Regions from separate parts of the Homo sapiens genome. Here region 2 is linked to region 1. The links come from fine-mapping of genetic effects on gene expression. Tissue or cell type: testis. Region 1 holds a variant in brackets; the other region holds the start of a gene. All regions are shown on one strand. Distances are from middle to middle.

Region 1 (8,102 bases):
GGCTAGCAGGGCGCAGCTGTGTCAGCCGTGCACAAGCCTGAGCCACATGCCTCACCCCTCCTGGCTAGCAGGGCGCAGCCATGTACATCTGGGGCATGAGTGCTGGGTGACACTCACTCATGGCAGGAGGCCCAGGTCCCTTGACAACCTGTACTTTATGGTATAGGTTGTCTGTTCTAAGCATGTGTTCTGAAATGGAACATTCATAGTGTTCACTGGCTTACTAGTTTCACCTCTAGGAAGTAGTGAACCTTCACTTGAGCCCAGTCGAAAGCCAGACTTTTTTTTTCTTGAAAGGAGAACAGTTATCTGCTGAAGACTATTCTGCCTCCAAAATCCAGAACGCCCTGCCTGGCACTGTGCCCCTCTCTTAGTGATGGGAGGTACCAGGACAGCAATTCTCTTTCCCTTGGGGGGAAATCGGGAGATGCTCCCAGGCGCTGGACCCCGGAGATCCCACCGAGATGGAAGACGCCTGGATTTTGTGTGCCTTATTTTCCAAGCTTCTGGCAAACATTTCTGTTCTAAGCATGGATTCTGAAATGGAATATTTGCCACATGGTGGTTCCTGGGCTTGCTATTAATAGTTCCACTATAAGCTGGAGCTGATCTCAAACATTCTTTGCCATCTGACCGGCTTACCCTCACCCCCACTCCCCGGAATGAAGGAACAGTGTCATATTAAGTCTCCAGGAATTATCGGTGTCCAGTCATCCTGAAAATCCTGAAAAATATGGTCATTTCTCCTCCTCCAACACACAGTCATCCTGGCAAGAAGACGGCTAGGAAGATTTACACCCTGAATCCGTGCATGCAACAGTGTTCTCCTTCAGTGGAACCCTGCCTATGCTTGACTTAGGGCGCTCTGGCTAAAATACGGGAATCAGGGGTGGACGGTGGGTTCTCATTTGAGTCTTTCACTTGTGACATAAGCTGCCCAGGCCAGGATCCAGGATTTTTTTTTTTTTTTTTTTTTTTGAGATGGAGTCTTGCTCTGTCGCCCAGGCTGGAGTGCAGTGGCTCAATCTCGGCTCACTACAATCTCTGCCTCCTGGGTTCAAGCATTTCTCCTGCCTCAGCCTATGAAATAGCTGGGACTACAGGTGCCTGCCATGATACCTGGCTAATTTTTGTATTTTTTGTACAGATGTGCTTCACCACGTTGGCCAGGCTGGTCTCCAACTCCTGACCTCAGGTGATCTGCCTGCCATGGCCTTCCAAAGTGCTGGGATTATAGACATGAGCCACCATGCCTGGCCAGGCCAGGATTTTGTTTTAATCATTGCTTATACAAATCAGGTTAGACTGTCTCCCACTGAATTCAGGAAGCCAAGGGAAGCAACGTTTTTGCAGTTCTGGAATATTCTTCTGTTGCACTTTTTTTTTTTTTTTTTTTTTTTTTTTTTTTTGGAGACAGAGTCTCGCTCTGTTGCCCAGGCTGGAGTGCAGTGGCATGATCTCGGCTCACTGCAACATCTGCCTCCCAGGTTCAAGTGATTCTCCTGCCTCAGCCTCCTGAGTAGCTGGGACTACAGGTGCATGCCACCATGCCTGACTAACTTTTGTATTTTCAGTAGAGACAGGATTTCCCCATGTTGGCCAGGCTGGTCTGGAACTCTTGACCTCAGGTGATCCACCTGCCTCGATCTACAGAAGTGCTGGGATTATAGGCATGAGCCACTGTGCCCGGCCGCACTTTTTATTTGTCAAAGTACAAAGGTACTGACACACAAAAAACGTTTTTTCCTTTGTCATTTTTTTTTTGTGGTAAAATGCACATAACACAGAAAACCAAACGCCAAATCTCTCTCATAAGTGGGAGTTGAACAGTGAGAACACAAGGACACAGGGAGGGGAACAACCCACACCAGGGCCTGTTGGGGGGTGGGGAGCAACAGGAGGGAACTTAGAGGATGGGTCAATAGGTGCAGCAAACCACCATGGCACATGTATACCTATGTAACCAACCAGCGAACCACCATGGCACACATGTACCTATGTAACCAACCAGCGAACCACCATGGCACACACGTACCTAAGTAACCAACCAGCGAACCACCATGGCACACGCGTACCTATGTAACCAACCAGCAAACCACCATGGCACACGCGTACCTATGTAACAAACCAGCAAACCACCACGGCACGCATGTACCTAGGTAACCAACCAGCAAACCACCATGGCACGCATGTACCTATGTAACCAACCAGCAAACGACCATGGCACATGTGTACCTATGTAACAAACCAGTAAACTACCATGGCACGCATGTACCTATGTAACCAACCAGTAAACCACCATGGCACACATATACCTATGTAACCAACCAGCAAACCACCATGGCACACGTGTACCTATGTAACCAACCAGCAAACCACCATGGCACACGCATACCTATGTAACCAACCAGCAAACCACCATGGCATATGTATACCTACGTAACAAACCAGCAAACCACCCGGCACACATGTACCTATGTAACCAACCAGCAAACCACCATGGCACATGTATACCTACGTAACAAACCAGCAAACCACCCGGCACACGTATACCTATGTAACCAACCAGCAAACCACCATGGCACACGTATACCTATGTAACCAACCAGCAAACCACCATGGCACATGTATACCTACGTAACAAACCAGCAAACCACCCGGCACACATGTACCTATGTAACAAACCAGCAAACCGCCATGGCACACGCGTTCCTATGTAACCAACAGCAAACCACCATGGCATGTGTGTACCTATGTAGCAAACCTGCACATTCTGCACTTGTATCCCTGAACTTAAAGTAAAATTATTTTTAAAAATTTACCATTTTTATCATTTTAAAGTGTACAATTCAGTGGCATTAAGTACACTTATAATGTGTGACCATGACCACCATCTTGTTCCAGAACCTTCTCATCACTCCAGATGGAAACCCCATGCCCCACTAAGCAGTCACTCCCCATTTTTTCCTCCCCCAGCCCCTAAGCAACCACTTTCTGTCTCTTGGACTTGTCTGTTCTGGACATTTCATATGAATGGAACCATACAGCATGCGGCCTTTGGTGCCAGGCTTCCGAGGTGCATCCACGCGTGTCACATATCAGATGCATCCACACGTGTCATGTATCAGGTGCATCTATCTGCACGTGTCACATATCAGGTGCATCTGCACGTGTCAGGTCCATCCACGCGTGTCACGTATCAGGTGCATCTGCACGTGTCATGTATCAAATGCTGTAAGTCCTAGTCATGAGGAAAATGAAAACCAAAACCACAATGAGATAGATACCTCTTCACACCCACTAGGATGGTCATCGTCAAAACTACAGAAAATAACAAGTGCTGGTGAGAAGATGAGGAGATTGGAACTCTCAGACCCTGCTGGTGGGAAT[A/G]TAAAATGCCGCAGCCACTGGAAACAGTTTCTTATAAAAGTAAACGTGCAAGTCCTGTGCAACACAGCAAGGGCACTCCTAGGTATATACCCAACGGGACTGAAAACAGGCATTCAAACAAAAACTTGTCCATGAATGTTCATAGCAGCTGATATGGTTTGGATGTTTTTTCCTCTAAATATCATGTGGAAATGATCCCCAGTGTTGGAGGGGGTGGGAAGTGACTGGATCATGGGGGTGGACCCTTCACGGATGCCTTGCTGCCACCCCTTGCTAATGAGTGCTTTCTCACAGTGAGCTCCCGGGAGATGTGGCTGTTTAAAAGTGTGCGGCGTCTCCCCCCACTATGTTCCTCCTGCTCCCATCATGGGACGCGCCATCTCTCACTTCCACCATCAATAAAAGCTCTCCGAGGCCTCCTGAGAAGCCTCCGCAAGCCAATGCCAGTGCCATGCTTACTGTCCAGCCTGCAGAACTGCGAGACAAACACAAATACCAGTCTCAGGTATTTCTTTACAGCAACAAAAGAACAGCCTAATATATGCAGCAATATTCACAAGTACCAAATGGTAGAAGCAACCCAAATATCCCTCAACAAATGACGGATAAACAGAATGTTTAAGTGTATACAGAAGAACACTATTCAGCCACTGTCTCACAGTGAACAAGTCCAAACACATCTACCTCAAAGTCCAAGGAAGCTGACAGGCCAAAGAAAGAGGCTGACAAATTCACATCTTTTTTTTTTTTTTTCTTTTGAGGCAGAGTCTTGCTCTGTCGCCCAGGCTGGAGTGCAGTGGCGCCATCTCGGCTCACTGCAAGCTCCGCTTCCCGGGTTCACGCCATTCTCCTGCCTCAGCCTCCCGAGTAGCTGGAACTACAGGCGCCCGCCACCACGCCCGGCTAATTTTTTGTATTTTTAGTAGAGACGGGGTTTCACCGGGTTAGCCAGGATGGTCTCGATCTCCTGACCTCGTGAAATGCCCACCTCGGTCTCCCAAAGTGCTGAGATTACAGGCGTGAGCCACCGCGCCTGGCCCACAAATTCAGTTCTTAAAAAGAAACATTTAATAGGGACTTAGAAACAGAAGCCATGTCAGTCTCAGGCTACGGTGAGTCAAGATGGCGGCTCCCTGCGCCGTCACCACCCAGGCCCAGGGCTTCTATTGCCATAGTGCAGGGGACATGCCTCAGAGGGGGTGGGCAGGAATTTCCCTAAGGCCAGGACTTGTGATAAGGATGTGCTCTTACACAAGGAACAACAGATGAACGGGAACTCTCAGAGGCATTCCCGGAACTGAGGTTAATCAGAAGCCAACACGACAAACTAGCGTCCAAGATGGAGCGGCTTCGGCCTCCATGATCCGCCCGCGCCGCCCCACTAATCCAGCTCTGACCGTCTCACCTGCCCTCCTCTTCCGCGATGGTCCCTGAGCCTTAGGGAGGGTGCTTGGGGTTGTCTGGCTTCAGCAGCGGTGCCTTGGCGTCGGAAAACAGGTCGGGCCCGGTGAGAGTCCCAGTGAGGGAGGGTCACCGGCTGTTGAATCATCTCTAGTCTTCAGGATACCACGACTTCTGTTTTCTCAGAGAAAATAAAACAACAAGAGATACATAACATTAATAATTTGCACACAAGGATGACAATCAAAAGGGAATTTGTATTTCAGAACAGTAACAAAAAAGAACCTATTTCATTAAGAAGCCGACTAAAAGCATCGTGAAGGAAACTAAAACCCGGTTTTTCTTTAGAGACTTGTAGCCAGTGAATGATTCAGGATTAGCCCAAATTGTAAGCAAATAATAACTCAAAAACAACGGTCAGAGCTAGGATCTAAATTTTTCTCTCTCTAGTTTCCCCATTTCTACCAAGGATAAATCATAGTAGGACCAGTTTATTTGCAAAATAAATTTCGGTCTCATTATACTTGGCCTATTTGCATGAAGCGTGGCAAGAATAGTTACCAGCCCTAGAGGCTTTTTTTTTTTTTTTTTTTCCCTGTGACAGGGGCTTGCTCTGTCAGCCATGCTGGAGTACAATGGTGCAATCAGAGCTCACTGCAGCCTCAGCCTCTCAGGCTCAAACACTCCTCCTGCCTCAGCCTCCCGAGTAGCTGGGACCCTTGGCACACCCCACCACACCCAGCTCATTTTTTATGTTTTGTAGAGACAGGGTCTCAGCATGTTGCCTAAGCTGGTCGGCTCTTTTTAAGTTGGCTTTGCTGGAACTTTTTTAGGGAATTTTGGACTCAACTTATTAAAAGCCTCAAGGGTAGGAAGCCAAGCGAAGGATTCACTGAATGAAATTGAAGTATTTTACCGCAAATTGTGTTTCTTTGCCATGTCTTGAAATAGCCTTGCAAAGCTTTCTCTTGTGGGGAAAAGCTGCATTCTGAAGAGAATCCTTTTCCTTTTTCAGGACTTTTCCCTGATTCAAGAGAGAATCAACTCTGGTAAGAAACATTTACAATCTGTTCTCTCTGAAGCTACCTGGAGGCTTTCTCTGTGTAATAGGAACTTGGTCACCACAATCCCTCATTAACCCAGACATTCCTTCTTTTGATTCCAGGTCTTTAGATAGTAACTCCTTCAACCAATTGCCAATCAGTAAATCTTTGAATCTACCTATGACCTGGAAGTCCCTGTTTCAAGTTGTCCCACCTTTCCTGATCGAACAAATGTATGTCTTCCCTGTATTGATTGGTGTCTCATGGCTCCCTAAAATTTATAAAACCAAGTTGTGGCCCAAACACCTTGGGCACTTGTTCTCACGGTCTCCTGAGGCCGTGTCATGGGCCACAGTCTCTCATATTTGGCTCAGAATAAATCTCTTCCAATATTTTACAGTTTGACTCTTTTCGTTGATTTTTTCATGCCTTTACTTTTGCAGTAGTAGGTAGGGGTTTCCCCAGTCCACGTACAATATCCATTTTCCATTTTCCTTTTTTTTTTTTTTCCTGAGTCTCTATTGCCCAGGCTGGAGTGCAATGGCACAATCTCGGCTCACTGCAGCCTCTGCCTCTTGGGTTCAAGCAATTCTCCTGCCTCAGCCTCCCCAATAGCTGGGACTACAGGTGCATGCCACCATGCCCGGCTAATTTTTGTATTTTTAGTATAGATGGGGTTTCATCATGTTGGTCAGGGTGGTCTTGAACTCCTAACCCCAAGTGATCCGCCCACCTCGGCCTCCCAAAGTGCTAGGATTACAGGTGTGAACCACTGTACCAGCTTCAATATCCATTTTCATAAAGCATTTAGGTAAAGGATATGTAATGCCTTACATAAAGCCTGTTTAAACATCTCGGCTTTCATAACTCTATCACACAAGTCGACTTTCATAACTCGACGTCTTTCTGTTCTGCTCCCAGGAACTTCTTTTTCCCACCTCCAGACCATTTTACCCTCTCTTGTGAAAAAGGATGTGGGTGCCCCACAGGGGCTTGATCCAAGGGACCCTGGCCCTTCTGTCAATCTTATCTTGATTAACCCACCTCAACATTGGCCCCCGCAATTGTTGGTCAGTTTGCTCAGTGTAACTTTTGCCTTCCAATTTTTATAGTTAGAGTGCCTTCTCCAATCTGGCAAAAACTGTTTTGGAGCTCTTTACTGTTGAGGGACCAGCGGGGGCTCCCTTTGTTCACCCAACTTTCGATAGTGTTGTATTAAGACCTTTGTGAATAACCCCCCATTATTCATTCCATTGCTTAACAACCATGTACAGATTCCACCCCGCTAGGATGCACCCCATGACTCTCTCCTTTCCTTTTTCCTCTTGGTTTCACCCCATCCACTTTTTACCTTTTTTTTGAGATGGAGTCTTACTCTGCCACCCAGGCTGGAGTGCAGTGGCAGTCTTGACTCACTGCAATTCTCCTCCCTCAGTCTCCTGAGTAGCTGGGATTACAGGTGCGCGCCACCACACCTGGCTAATTTTTGTATTTTTAGTAGAGATGAGGTTTCGCCATGTTGGCCAGGCCAGTCTCGAACTCCTGATCTCAGGTGGTCTGCCCACCTCTGCCCCTCAAAGTGCTGAGATTACAGGCGTGAGCCACCAGGCCTGGCCCATTTTTTACCTATTTAAAACTAATCGTTTAAAAATTTTCCCCTTCCTAGGATGAGTCCTTGGACTCCCTTTTGCCTTTCCCAATAATTTTATTAATTAGCCTAAAGTTTTTATAAGCATCTGGATGACCCATGAGGGGAAGTTGAGACCCAATGAGGTGCCCAGGCCAATGGGCCCCCTTAACCACAGCATTTACCATGATCTGGGCATACTCAGCCGTGAATATCCCGGTCATCATAAAGTCAGTCCCACATGGCTTGCTTACGAAGCACATCAGCTGCTTCATCGGGGGTGCTCCACTTGGCGTTTATGGGGAAAGTTGGGTGGTCCCCTTCTCTTACAGTGCCTTTTATCCAGCCCACCAGGCTGGCCGTTCCCTCAGGAATAATCTGTGCGTCTGGATCACACACACTCATCTGCCATTGTTCAGCAGTGAGCTGTGGGTCTCACATCAGCCCACACGTGCTCTTCCATTCTGCTGCACTTGTGACCAGCAGAAGGGTGAGGCTGCTCACCACTTGTAGAAAGAAGCCAAAATAATAATGAGGTGTGATAGAAAGAGAGTGAGACTTTATTATCCGTACCAGCAAAGGGATGAGCACAAAGCAATTCCACTCTTCCATTTGTGGAGGGAACGCAGGGGATTTTAAAG
Region 2 (8,102 bases), 68 kb before region 1:
AATGTCAGGGGTTAAAAGGGAAGATTTCCCACTGGCCCTTACCTTCATACATTAAAAACACATTCAGGCTAGGCACGGTGGCTCATGCCTGTAATGCCAGCACTTTGGGAGGCCAAGGCCGGAGGTCAGGAGTTGGAGACCAGCCTGGCCAACAGGGTGAAACCCTGTCTCTACTAAAAATACAAAAATTAGCTGGGCCTAGTGGCACACACCTGTGATCCCGGCTACTTGGGAGGCTGAGACAGGAGAATCGCTGGAACCCGGGAGGGCAGCTGGACGGGAGGGCAGCTGGAACCCGGGAGGTTGCAGTGAGCCGAGATCGCGCCATTGCACTCCAGCCTGGGTGACAAGAGAGAGACTCCATCTCAAAAAAAAAAAAAGATTCAACATTAATGAATGAAGCATTCATCACAAGAAATTACAGGAAGAACAGCAAATGGAATCCAAAAAAACGGAAGAAAGAAACGAATAAAAGTGACATCAGAAATTAATAATATGGAAATTATGTACATATTAGGATACACAAGTTAGTTATTTCTTTGGATAAACTAAAAACTTTGATAACTCTTGCTTTTTTTTTTTTTTTTTTTTTTTTTTGAGACAGGGTCTCACTCTGTTGCCAGGGCTGGAGTGCAGTGGTGCAATCTCAGCTGACTGCAACCTCCGCCTCCCAGGTTCAAGCAATTCTTGTGTTTCAGCCTCCCAAGTAGCTGGGATTACAGGCTTGTGCACCATGCCCGGCTAATATTTGTTATTTTTTGTAGAGATGAGGTTTCACCATGTTGGCCAGGCTGGTCTCAAACTCCTGACCTAAAATTATCCACCTGCCTCAACCTCCCAAAGTGCTGGAATTACAGGTGTGAGCCACCACGCCCAGCCTTAAAAATGTGGATAATTCTTGTGGGAGACCAGTCAAGAAAAGAAGAGGAGAAAAACAGCCATAATAGCAATGGGGAAAAAATCAGGATCAACAGAGTCTTCAGCCGGGCGCAGTGGCTCACACCTGTAATCCCAACACTTTGGGAAGCCGAGGCAGGTGGATCCCTTGAGCCCAAGGGAGAAATAGCGAAGGGGGACACGTCACACTTTCAAACCATCAGATCTCCTGAGAACTCACTCACTATCACCAGAACAGCAAGGGGGAGGTCTGACCCCACGATCCAATCACCTCCCACGTGGCCCCTCCGCCAATTCCACATGAGATCTGGGCGGGGACACAAATCCAAACCATCTCATCCTGTAACTTCTTTCTCCCTAAAGGGTATAAAATCGAGCTGTACCCCGGCCACCTTGGGCACATGTTCCCCGAACCTCCTGAGTCTCTGTCATGTGAGGTCATGGTCCTCACATTTGGCTCAGAATAAACCTCTTCAAATATTTTAGAGTTTGGCTTTCTTTCATCAACACATCCCATCCTGTAAAACGCAGAGTAAGCCGGAGAGAATGGCTCACACCTGTAATCTCAACACTTTGGGAGACCAAGATGGGAGGATCATTTGAGGCCAGGAGTTCAAGAGACCAGCTTGGCCAACAAAGCAAGACCTCATCTCTAAAAAAAAAATAAGTAAATAAAAACAAATGTGAGTGACTTCACTCTTCTCTCCCAGAGCCTCCAGTTGTCACTTTTCTGAGTTTCTTCAGGGTCTCTTGAACTGTACTCAGGGTGTCAAGAGGTACAGTTGGGAAGGATGGGGGCCTCTAATGAGGGGGTTAAGAGCATCATTCTGGAGGAGACATGAGGGAGGCAGCAGAGAGGGGCTGTGGTGTGGCCTTCACACACTGCAACTCCTGGAGGTCGGGCAGGGGCAGGATGTCCAGACAGTGGACGCATGAGTGGGGAAGCCTTCAGCCACCCTGACTCCACCTAGGAGGTGCCCCAAGGCAGAACCAGCAGCTGAGCCTGGCCAGCCCCGGCAGCGATGAGAGACAGTAGGTTTTGGGGTGACCAACAGGGAGCCCCAGCAGGAGCCCAGCAGGAGAGAGAAGCTGGATATTGATCCTGCTGGCCCCTCCTGCAGTCCGCAGGACTGTCCACAGCCCTCGCTCCTCTTAAGCAGCTCACCTGCCTTGGTGGCCCCTCCCCTCCTGGCCCCTCCTTTTGGGCCTGGGTTGGGGGTGGCAGGGGTCCTGTCCCTGCACCCGGAGTGGAGTGGGATATGGCACTGGAATGTTTCTAGGCAGCCCACTCCTGTAAGAGGGCCTGGGGCTGGGCCCAGTAGTTCACACCTGTAATCGCAGCACTTTGGGAGGCTGAGGCAGGAGGATCGCTTGAGCCTCGGAGTTCGAGAGCAGCCTGGGCAACATAGAGACCCCACTTCTACTTGAGAGACACACAGAGAGAGAGAGAGGGAGGGAGGGAGAGAGGGAGGGAGGGAGAGAGAGAGGGAGGGAGGGAGAGAGAGAGGGAGAGAGGGAGGGAGGGAGAGAGAGAGAGAGAGAGAGAGAGAGAGAGAGAGAGAGAGAGAGAGAGAGAGAGAGAGAGAGAGAGAGAGAGAGAGAGGGAGAGAGAGAGAGAGGGAGGGAGGGAGGGAGGGAGAGAGAGAGGCTTCTGGTAAATGCTCCTATTTTGCAAACTCTCTTCCTATTTTGTGATTAGGATGCTCCATCAGTTTCTGCCACCAGCTTGCTGGAGACGCTGCGTGTCCCTGACTCCTCTCAAAGGGTGAAAAGCTCAGTCGCACCCGAGACCTGCTCCTCAGGCAGAGGATGAACTGAGTCCCCGCCCCACCGCCCGTCTGGCCTCTGTGAGAGTGGCGTGCAGGCTGACCCTGGAAGCAGAGGGACATTCGAACGGGCCGGCGGCCTTCTCCCCGCTAGGCTGGGCTCCGGGGTGGGCGGAGAGTGGCCGCCACAGGCCATCAGCGTCCGGGGTTCTGGAAGCAGGGAGGGCAGAGGCTGGCCCAGCCTATGGGAGACCCTGCAGAGGCGTGGCCTCCAGGCTAATCCTACCCCAGCTGCCCCAGGGCGGGATTTCTTTTCTTTTTTCCTTTAATCTCTTTATCTACAGGCGCCGAGGCTTAATGAGCTCCAGATGTCTCAACATACCAGGAGAGGTTTAGGATCCCCTGCCAAATACAAGGGAGATAAGAACGCACCAGACTTGCACAAACCAGAGCTGGTGACCCCCAGTTCCCTTTAAATCAGCGACATGTCATTACAAGGCGGAAGTCCTGCCCGAGAGGACAGTCCCCAGGCCTTGCTAAGCATGCGTGGTATCAAGAGGTGCATTGAGGCGCTCCTGCAGCCTCCTCCCGGCACGGGACTCCTCACAACCCCCAGCCTCAGCTTCCCTGACAGGGCAGGGGCTCACTCTTCTCCACTCCGGGCCAGGAACGCAGCCTGCTTGCCTTTTGTCCAATTGGGTGCTCTTTCTTTGCGACTGATACAAAGTGGGAACAAACTCCGCTTCCGGTGATGCCCGGGCCCCAGGAGGCTGGGGGAGAAGTGCACGCTGCCCAGCCTTCAACCTGAACTGCCCCCAGCACTTCCGAGCCCCGACCCCTGCAGCTGTGAGGTGAGGTGGGGAGGGGGCGGCCTGCGGGGAGGGGGCTGCCTGCGGGGAGGGGGCTGCCTGCAGGGCGGGCCGTGTGGGTCCCCCGAGCGTGGGGGACCAGTGACGTCAGGCAACATTTCTCCAAAGGCTCCCTCACCTTGTCCTTTGGCATCTGGGGTGCTCAGAGGAAGGGGGAAGCCGGGAGGGTGTGGAGAGGGTCACTGGAGAGGGGAAAGGCCAGAGTGATCCCCTTGGGGACGAGGCAGAGGAAAAGCTGTGGAGACCTAAAGAGAAGAGGTGGGGTGCGCCTGGGCCTCTCAAGTTTGTTTCCCAGAACCAGGGAAGGTTACAGTGGAAGGGAGGACCCTGTGGGGAAGAAGCTTCCAGAGACCTTCTGGAGAGGTGAGCCAAAGGCGAGCCATGGCCAGAAACCCCAGGCCTGCTGCAGTGGAGAGTCAGTGCTGCAGGAGGCTTGGGAATCAGGGCTGCCCTCCTTGGGCTGAACCCTCTATCTAGGGGACAATGGCCCTGGGCAAAAGCACTGCTTTCTGGGCCCCCTGGAGGGTAGGGCATGACACTGTGGTGCTAGAGGCAGGGGGGACATGAGGAGGTAGACGAATGTCCTGAGTCACCAGGTACAACCACTGCACCCCATTGTGACTGCCCCTGTGTCCGACACAGATTTGGGGGGTCTGGAATGTCCCTTGAGCTCCTTAGGCACTCATGAATTTCTAGTTGAGCAAATAAAATGTCCAAGATGCCCAGTTTGATCTGAATCTCAGATAAACAACAAATAGTCATTTTTACCAATGTTTGGGACATACTTATGCTAAAAATTGTTTATCTGAAATTCATATTTAATTGGGCATCTTACCCCATTGACCCTAATTAGCAAATCACATCCAGGAGTACAGGGCATGGCTGGGTGGTGGCTGTCACACTGTGCAGTCAGAGGGACCAGGACGTCTTGGATGCAGGCGTCTGGCCAGCGTGGAAGGCCAGGACCTGGTCACGAGATGTGGCTCCCGGCATGGCAGGTCAAAGACTGCTGGTCGTCTGAGCCCAGCCCTGACTCCAGGCTGAGATGGCCATTCACCCAGACCTTGAGCCCTGCCCTGACTCCAGGCTGAGACGGCCGTCCACCCAGACCATTCTGAGCCCTGCCCTGACCCCAGGCTGAGATGGTCATCTATCGGGGGAAATTCACCCCCGATATTTCATGTAGGTTCTTTTCTATTTTCCCTAAGTGTCGGCCAGTCTGAGAAATAAAGGGACAGAGTACAAAAGAGAGAAATTTCAAAGCTGGGCGTCCGGGGGAGACATCACATGTCGGCAGGTTCCGTGATGCCCCCTGAGCCGTAAAACCAGCAAATTTTTATTAGTGATTTTCAGAAGGGGAGGGAGTGTACAAATAGGATGTGGGTCACAGAGATCACATGCTTCACAAGGTAATAAGATATCACAAGGCAAACGGAGGCAGGGCGAGATCACAGGACCACGGGACCGGGGCGAAATTAAAATTGCTAATGAAGTTTTGGGCACACATTGTCATTGATAACATCTTATCAGGAGACAGGGTTTGAGAGCAGACAACCAGTCTGACCAAAATTTATTAGGCGGGAATTTCCTCATCCTAATAAGCCTGGGAGCACTGCGGGAGACTGGGGCTTATTTCATCCCTTATCTACAACTGTAAAAGGCAGCCGTCCCCAAAGCAGACATTTCAGAGGCCTCCCCTTAGGGATACATTCTCTTTCTCAGGGATGTTCCTTGCTGAGAAAAAGAATTCAGCGATATTTCTCCTATTTGCTTTTGAAAGAAGAGAAATATGGCTCTGTTTCACCTGGCTCACAGGCAACCAGAGTTTAAGGTGATCTCTCTTGTTCCCTGAACGTTGCTGTTACCCTGTTCTTTTTTCAAGGTACCCAGATTTCATATTGTTCAAACACACATGCTCTGCAAACAATTTGTGCAGTTAACACAATCATCACAGGGTCCTGAGGCAATATACATCCTCCTCAGCTTACGAAGATGATGGGATTAAAAGATTAAAGACAGGCATAGGAAATCACAAGGGTATTGATTGGGGAAGTGATAAGTGTCCATGAAATCTTCACAATTTATGTTCAGAGATTGCAGTAAAGACAGGCATAAGAAATTATAAAAGTATTAATTTGGGGAACTAATAAATGTCCATGAAATCTTCACAATTTATGTTCTTCTTCCATGGCTTCAGCCGGTCCCTCTGTTTGGGGTCCCTGACAATAGCCGTCCACCCAGACTGTTCTGAGCCCAGCCCTGACTCCAGGCTGAGACGGCCGTCCACCCAGGGCGTTCTCAGCCCAGCCCTGACTCCAGGCTGAGACGGCCGTCCACCCAGGGCGTTCTCAGCCCAGCCCTGACTCCAGGCTGAGACGGCCGTCCACCCAGGGCGTTCTCAGCCCAGCCCTGACTCCAGGCTGAGACGGCCGTCCACCCAGGGCGTTCTCAGCCCAGCCCTGACTCCAGGCTGAGACGGCCGTCCACCCAGGGCGTTCTCAGCCCAGCCCTGACTCCAGGCTGAGACGACCGTCCACCCAGGGCGTTCTCAGCCCAGCCCTGACTCCAGGCTGAGATGACCGTCCACCCAGACCATTCTGAGCCCAGCCCTGACTTTCTGTCCAGAGTGCAGTCCTGAAGGAGCCCCTTTCTCCCACCACCAGGGGAGACCAGTCTAACCCCTGACACGGGGCATCATGGGAGCCCTAGCCAGGGCACAGAAATGACAGGCCTGGCCCACACCACAGGATGGCTGGTGGCCGCAGGAGCTCTGCCTCTTGGTGACCATCCAGAGGCTCTCTGACAACCCTACTCAGATGTTCCCTGGAGCCACATGGCAAGAGTTCTGCCAGAAGAGCCATGAGCCTGGCACTCTGTGGGTTCTGGTCCCTGGGGGGGCACCCGTGCCCCAGGAGCACCTCCCCAAGGCCATGGTGCCAGCAGGATGTTGCAGAGGCCTGAGGTCAGAGTGGCAGGTGGGCGGCCTCAGGAATGGTGAGGAAGAAGCCGAGTGCTGACGCTGAGTGGGTCAGCAAAGGGCTGTTTGTTGACCTTGAGAGGGAGGCCCTCATCCTGTGTGGGAGGCCAGCAGGGCCCCCTGGGACCACGTTCCCTCCTTGCTTGGATTCAGGTAGCCCAGAGAGCTGAGGGGTTGGCCCTGGCTCCTCGGCAAGTTAGTGGCAAGCTGGATGGAGCTGGGGACTCCCGCCCTGGGCCACGGTTTCTCTATGACCCTAGGTCCCAAGCAGCCAGTGGTGGGGCCTGGTCTCTGAGGCCCAGCTCTGAAAAAAGTGGTGTTGTTGGGGGGCATGGGCTGGAGGGCCTGGGCCCAGAGGACAAGGAGTTTAAGCAGGGATATGTTCCCTGACAGGGAAGCCCCGACCTCTGCCCTGGCCACATCCTTCCCCTGATCTCATGGCTGAAAAGCCACACCAGAATTCCTGCAATTCAGTGAGGCAGCTCTTCAAAACCAAGCAGCTGGTGACGCACAGGGACAGAGGGTAGGCCTGCGGGGGAGAGGGCGGGAAAGGCCCTCACAGCAGGGCCCAGAGGAAGACTGACCCCAGGCTGAGCAGGAGCTGTACGCACAGGGCCCAGGGGCTGCTGGCTGCCAGGACCACCGCATTGCAGAGGTCTCCCTTGCAGCAAGAGATCTGGGAGTCCACAACGGCACTTGTAAGTTTCAGCAGGGGGAATCCGACGTCCTTCTGGCAGGAGAGGAGGGAGAGCTTGTTCTCCCCTCTCACTTTACCTGCGAGAGAGCGGGGTGGGGGATGAGCAGGGCCCTGCCCCGGGGCCTCAGGGGCTTTCTGCAGGGAGGCTCCGCACCCCAACATCTGCTGGCTGGGAGCCTGAACATCAAAGCCATCAGGACCAAGGCCATCGGAGCCCTTTCACTTAGGGGACGCTGAGGCCACCCAGGGAACCAGGGTTGTGGCAGAAAGGGCAGCAGGGTTTGAGTTCTTTCCCCAGGCAGCCCTCACCCTGCCCCGGCCTTGGGACCCCCGAAGCGGGAGCTGGGTGGGCTGTGGAGGGGAGCTGGGTGCTGCTTTTGGGAAACAGCTGCGGGCTCCAGGCTGGCTTTTTTTTTTTTAAATATCTTTTTGAGATGGAGTTTTGCTCTTGTGGCCCAGGCTGGAGTGCAATGGGGCGATCTCTGCTCACCACAACCTCCACCTCCTGGGTTCAAGCGATTCTCCTGCCTCAGCCTCCCCAGTAGCTGGGATTACAGGCATGCCCCACCAGGCCCGGCTAATTTTGTATTTTTAATAGATACAGGGTTTCTCCATGTTGGTCAGGCTGGTCTCCAACTCCCGACCTCAGGTGATCCCCCCGCCTTGGCCTCCCAAAGTGCTGGGACTACAGTCATGAGCCACCGTGCCCGGCCAGGGCAGGCCTTTTCCTGCCTCACCTCACTGAAGGGTGTGGCCTGGGGACAGATGCAGCTCCGAGAGCTGAGGGTGCTGAGGGTGCTGAGGGTGCTGAGGGCCTGGGCAGGCTGCAGCCCCTCCCCAGTCCTCCCATGGCCTGGCTGATATCCCACCATTCCAGAGTCATTCCTTTAGCTTGA

Which allele goes with the higher level. Positions count from the first base shown, and alleles are read on the strand shown. Sizes are in standard deviations (SD) of each study's normalised expression.
For the expression in testis of the gene that starts at base 3,154 in region 2, A is the high allele of the variant in region 1 and G is the other (moderate effect, 0.59 SD a copy in GTEx).

What was found. PIP is the estimated chance that this variant, and not a neighbour inherited with it, causes the effect.
Region 2: LY6S-AS1 starts here. The variant in region 1 is fine-mapped to the expression of LY6S-AS1 in testis (GTEx, PIP 0.92).

What each region holds. Positions count from the first base shown.
Region 1 is chr8:143,104,190-143,112,291 of GRCh38, forward strand. No RefSeq gene overlaps it. Among named protein-coding and RNA genes, the nearest start is that of LY6L, 28 kb to the left of the region's middle. The variant A/G (reference allele first, on the strand shown) is at 3,391.
Region 2 is chr8:143,036,056-143,044,157 of GRCh38, forward strand. LY6S-AS1 (LY6S antisense RNA 1) reads left to right here and starts at 3,154. Exons shown (of 6, transcript NR_149322.1): 1 at 3,154-3,514; 2 at 6,903-7,032; 3 at 7,108-7,207. It overlaps LY6S (lymphocyte antigen 6 family member S), which reads right to left. Exons shown (of 4, transcript NM_001406478.1): 4 at 4,784-7,283. The coding sequence ends at 7,066. RefSeq lists enhancers at 2,826-3,377, 5,399-5,974, 6,551-7,126.